2 separate regions of the Homo sapiens genome follow, and region 2 is linked to region 1. Evidence: fine-mapped expression QTL. A gene starts in region 1. The other region holds a variant in brackets. All regions are shown on one strand. Distances are between the middles of the regions.

Region 1 (2,786 bases):
CATGCTCCCCAACATCCCCAGCATGACAGGGACTATAAGAACAAGAACAATTAACAACTTCACCCATGGGTGACAATGCCTCCACACACACCCTCCGCACCCCCCCTCTCCCAGGCAAATGCCCCTCTCTAACCTCGGTGTGGCAGAAAGACAGTCTGGCTGTCGGGCTGGACATCTGGCTGACTAGAGTCAGGAGGAGGCAGTGCTACTCGACTCTCACTGGCATGGAACTGGCAGTGGATTTGGGCACTGGCCCAGGCCAGGGCCTCACTGTGGGAAAAGGAAAAGGAGGCATCAGAGGTAGTTCCTGACCTCACAAATGCTTTCCCAAGCTCCCTATCACACCATCTTAACCAACAAGGTTAGATGGCTGTCCTAGTGATCAGGAAATCCACAATCCCAAAGAGAAACCATTAAATAAAGAGTAGCAGACTGTGCGTAAAAAGGGGAACGGGGGAGGGGAAGGAAAGCGTACAGCTATGTCATCCACATCTTCTGTTAAAGAGCCCTCTCCTACAATGACAGCACAGTGAGCAAGAGGAGGTGGTGTCGCTACAGGACAACCTGAGCTCTGCCTCAGCCCCAGAGATAATCTGGCTTCTTCCCAGAAGGGCCACCACCTTCAGTGCCAGCATCCCCACCTGGATGCAGAAGTGGCCGTGGGCGGAAGGGGGTTGGTGACGGTCACTACACACTCCAGCGCCTCCCCAGCCAAAAATACAGGACCCCGGCTGAGCTCTGCTACCACTTCAATCATGGCAGCTCCGGAATCAGATCTAGAAGGAAACAAGGCGGGGCGGAGGTCAGCACCTTGACAGGGAGGGGCGTTGCGGTGAGCACCTAGGGCTGAGGGCTGAGGACAGGGGTGGTCAGCACCGTGGTGCCCGAGGGAGCTCCTGGATATAGGAGGGGTAGGCGGGTGGGAGGGAGGCGACTGAAGACTCAGTACTGCCCAGGGGGAGGACATCGCTCTGGGCCCTAGACCCCAGCCCCTGTGCGACGGGTTCTTCTCCCTGGGCACCCCCGCGGAGTTCCCAAACTGGCCTCCGCTCCCCCTTTCCTCAAAGTTCCACGTCCCAGCCCAAGATCACCGCCGCTAGTCACCTCGCATAGTCGACACTAGGGATCGGCACCCCTAGGCCTCATCTGCCCGCCCCTCAGGGACCTGGCTAGGTACGCGGCGGCGGCGGCGGCGGCGGCGTCCGCTGGGCGGTAGAGGCGGGACTTCCCTTCGGTCCCCCACCCTCCGCGGAGTCCCTTCCGGCCGGAAGCGCCCGGCAGGCCAGACCGGAAAGGGCTCGGGTCATCCCGGCGCCCAGGGTCACCTTCCCACGGGCTGGCACCTGGGCGCGGGCGCTGCCCCGGAGCCGGCCGGCGGGACCTGGCGCCCAATCCTGGGGGACCCGGTGCCGTGGCCCAGGGGCCGGGCCGAGGTCCCGGGGGCGGTGCCTTGCGGGCCCGTCCCGGGGCGGTGCCTGGTGGGCTGGCCCCGCGGCTCCTCCCCTCTCTGCGGGCCCAGTCGCCCTTTGGCCGGGCGAGCTAATCGTCGGCTCAATGACGACGAGGCCCGACCCTTCCCGTCCAGGACCTACAGAGACAACCGAAGGAGAGCCCAAGGCGGCTTCTTTGCTGTCGCCGCCCCCACTGAAGCAAGAGCTCCCCGGCTCCACTGAAACACCAGCTCATTTAAGCTTTCCCCAACGCCCGGCCCTCCGGGACGATACCTAACAACGACCGGCGCCCGCATCTGGAATAGGCTGGCGAGATACTTAGTATCCGAGGGCTCGGGACTTGGCGCCATCGAGGTCATGGGGACCCAGGATCCAGGGAACATGGGAACCGGCGTCCCAGCCTCGGAGCAGATAAGCTGTGCCAAAGAGGATCCACAAGTTTATTGCCCTGAAGAGACTGGCGGCACCAAGGATGTGCAGGTTACAGACTGTAAGAGTCCCGAAGACAGCCGACCCCCAAAAGAGACGGACTGCTGCAATCCGGAGGACTCTGGGCAGCTGATGGTTTCCTATGAGGGTAAAGCTATGGGCTACCAGGTGCCTCCCTTTGGCTGGCGCATCTGTCTGGCTCATGAGTTTACAGAGAAGAGGAAACCCTTTCAAGCTAACAACGTCTCCCTAAGCAACATGATAAAGCATATAGGCATGGGCTTGAGGTGAGTAGACCCCATTGCCTAGAATGCCTTTGGCTTCACTTTGTTCCAGCTCAAAACTTCTAGCAGAGGTGGGAAAGGGCAAGAAAGCAGTTGGGCTTCTTGTCTGAGTGAAGCGGTCCCTATCCCTGGCATATTTTAGGCCTGTGGTTTTGGACCGTGAGACCAGGTCACATCTCTTTGCAACACCCTTCCCTCCCAGTGTTTTGTCTTTTCAGAAGGAAAGGGTAGGAACATTTGGTCATGCAATCAGCCTTTCCCATTCAGGCTCTTCTCACATACTGGTTTCCAATGACTTCCCTTTGGGATTAGCTATACTTTGTGGCAAGGTAGGAAAGGATAATCTGGCTGCTGTGATACTAACACAATGTTGTTTTATTTGGGGGTGGGGGGGTCTCAACCCCTTATTTCCCACAAGCAGCTGGGGCATTCTCTGTACCTCATTAGACACACTGTTAGAGTCCCAACACTACTGCTTCTTTCTTCAAGCTTTAGCTCCAGGGAGTAGGTAAGAAGAGCCTCCCTGCCCTCACCTCTGAAGTGATGAGAAGGTGCTGTCATTCTGTTCTGGGATAGAGAGCTCTTGATATTAAGTCATTTATCAGAGAGGCACTGCCATAGA
Region 2 (2,786 bases), 30 kb before region 1:
TCAATGGATATATGAGTATGGATGAAGGGATTCACTTTATTTTTATTTATTTGGTCATATTTTGAGACAGAGTCTCACTCTGTTACCCAGGCTGGAGTGCAGTGGCGCCATCTTGGCTCACTGCAACCTCCATCCCCCGAGACTCAATCAATCCTCCCACTTCAGCCTCCCAAATAGCTGGGACCACAGATGCACACCACCACGCCTGGTTGTTTTTTGTTTGTTTGTTTGTTTGTTTTGTATTTTTGGTAGAGATGGAGTTTCACCATGTTGCCCAGGCTGATCTCAAACTGCTGAGCTCAAGTGATCCACCCTCCTCATCCTCCCAAAGTGCTGGGATCACAGGTGTGAGCCACCGTGCCCAGCCAGGGATTCACTTTAAAAGAAAAAGAAATTCCTCTGAGACTGCAGGGAAAGGTGGAACAATGGATTCAGGGATAGATTTCGTGACGGATAAATTTAACTTATCTGTTGAGCATTGAGCTTGGTCAGGTATAAACATAACCTGCCACCCATCAGTCTTCATCTGTGCCATGACAAATGTCTCCTTTGTACCTCTTCACAACATCATGGTCAGAGTCCATAACACTCTGCTCCCTTTTGGTTATTTAAAGACTCAGTCCGATATGGCTTAAAACTCCAGTCTCAGGTCCAATGCAGAACTCATCTTAAGCCATGGCTTAAGGAACCTGCGGTGGAGAGAAGAATATGATCCCTTCTATTGATTCTGCTTCTCCTCTTCTAGTTCTCTGGAAGGTTCTCTAGAAGGGTTTTAGCTCCTTGGTGGTTGAGAACTAGGAGGAGGGCAGGGAGGAAAAGAACAACTCTCTTTTTATTTAACAAGGTAGTTATCACAAACCACTGTTTGCTGACAGACCATGCCAACCTGTTGTTTGGCAGATGTCAAAATGCTATCTTTCTTGCACATGGTGGCTCATGCCTGTAAGCCCAAGGCATTGGAAGGCTGAGGCAGGAGGATCACTTGAGCCCAGGAGTTTGAGACCAGCCTGGGCAACGTAGAGAGACCCTGTCTCTAAGAAAATTTTTTTTTAATTAGCCGAGTGTGGTGGCACATAACCTGCAGTCCCAGATACTCAGAAGGCTGAGGCAGGAGGATCACTTGTGCCCAAGAGATTCAGGCTGCAATAAGCCATGATCACAACACTATACCCCAGCCTAGGCAACAGACCCCATCTTAAAAAAAAAGATGCTGGCTCTCTTATGAGACAGTTATGTGAGTTCTTTAGAAGGTCCTACTGGGCTTCTCCACTGAGTTGTGCCCTAATGCAGAGAATCCTGATCCAAGCCATCTCTTTAACCCTCCTAACTTCTGTTCAGTGGCAGCCTTTTGGATGGGTTACCAGCATGATGGCTCAAGCCC[G/A]GCGATCTTCCTCAGTGTCCCTTTGATCACAGAAACTCACATACCCTTGCTAAGCCAAACAGAATGAATGCAGACTATTCCACTACTATCCCCTTACTCTGCCCTTCCTCCTTTCTCTAATTGCCTTTCCTCTTCTCAGACAGGTGCGGAGCTGAACAAATCCACTGTCTAAACAGATAGTTTAACCAAGGAATGAGAAATCAATCTCTCTTTCATGTAGATCTCTTTCATACTCCCTTGCTTACTTTAAGGGGGGAAAGGAGGGAAAAGTACTCCCTGCTAGGCTCATGACAGCCTCCCTTCAGTCATCTTTTATCTTATATAGCCTGGGAATGGAGGTGGGGTGGTAAGGTATGGGTTGGCTGGAAGTTGCAGGGCCACTTCTGCTACCTCTTTGTAAGCCCTGGAGAGGAGCTCTGATCCAATTATTAGCAACTCTCTCTAGAACGTGCAGTATTTAGTCCTCTTTGTCCCAGCTTTGGACCCTAGTCACCAATTCCAGGGCAATAGAAAAAAACCTTACTCAACATCCTCTATAATATATTGAAATGAAGGGAAGGTTATATGAAATAAGGAGCTCAACTGCATTCCTCAATGGGGAAGCAAAGTCATCTTTTGAGTGACAGAAGGAACCAGGAGTTTGAAAGTTCAGGCAGAATAAAGAAGACAGAGATAGACTGGAGATAGAACATCAGATGAAAGCCATGTATACTCTCTTTTCCCCATTAAAATATAAAAAGCACATATACATATTATTCCACAACATTTTACATATCATTTCAGGTGCACGTGGATCTAGGAGCTAAAGGATCCCAGATTAACAAGCCTTGGGCTTAAGAGAAAGCAAACAGGAAGGCGAATGTGCATTATTTGTGCATTCGAGAGGAGGGAGTGGGTATGTAGGCAGGCAAAGCCAATGCACAAAAGGAAGGCTGGACATTTAGGGACTTGCATCCACCCAGAAGCCATCCATGTCAGACACCAGTTTGACATGTCATATTATATTCCAAAGTATTCTGACTGCTTGAACACTTTTGTATATTCAGCTTATTTTTCAGTATAATGTTGTGATACATCCTTCTACAGAGTTAATATGATTAATAATTGAGGGACTTTAGAGAAGGGGCCAGAAATTTAATTATGCTTTAAAACGTAGCTTTTGGACTGGAAACTGTTAACAGCGAATACCTCCCTGAAGGGGAACAAGGTATCTAAAGGGCAAGATGAAAGAGACAGTTTTTTCATTATCTATCATTTTGTATACCTTTTTTTGACACAGAATTTCGCTCTTGTTGCCCAGGCTGTAGAACAATGGCATGATCTTGGCTCACTGCAACCTCTGTCTCCCGGGTTCAAGTGATTCTCCTGCCTCAGCCTCCCGAGTAGCTGGGATTACAGGCATGCG

Alleles and levels. Alleles are on the strand shown, and positions count from the first base shown. SD is a standard deviation of normalised expression in the study named.
As copies of G replace A in region 2, the expression in non-classical monocytes of the gene that starts at base 1,226 in region 1 goes up (small effect, 0.39 SD a copy in Schmiedel 2018).

Evidence for each region. PIP is the estimated chance that this variant, and not a neighbour inherited with it, causes the effect. A credible set is the group of variants that fine-mapping cannot tell apart.
Region 2: its variant is the best candidate, but not a certain one, in a credible set for the expression of RGP1 in non-classical monocytes (Schmiedel 2018, PIP 0.66).

What each region holds. Positions count from the first base shown.
Region 1 is chr9:35,747,727-35,750,512 of GRCh38, reverse strand. RGP1 (RGP1 partner of RAB6A GEF complex) reads right to left here and starts at 1,226. Exons shown (of 9, transcript NM_001080496.3): 1 at 1,105-1,226; 2 at 642-776; 3 at 134-270. The coding sequence starts at 757. GBA2 (glucosylceramidase beta 2) reads left to right here and starts at 1,285. Exons shown (of 17, transcript NM_020944.3): 1 at 1,285-2,167. The coding sequence starts at 1,809. RefSeq lists silencers at 937-986, 1,017-1,066, 1,187-1,586.
Region 2 is chr9:35,778,170-35,780,955 of GRCh38, reverse strand. It overlaps a transcript of RGP1 not described here. Among named protein-coding and RNA genes, the nearest start is that of NPR2, 12 kb to the left of the region's middle. The variant G/A (reference allele first, on the strand shown) is at 1,382.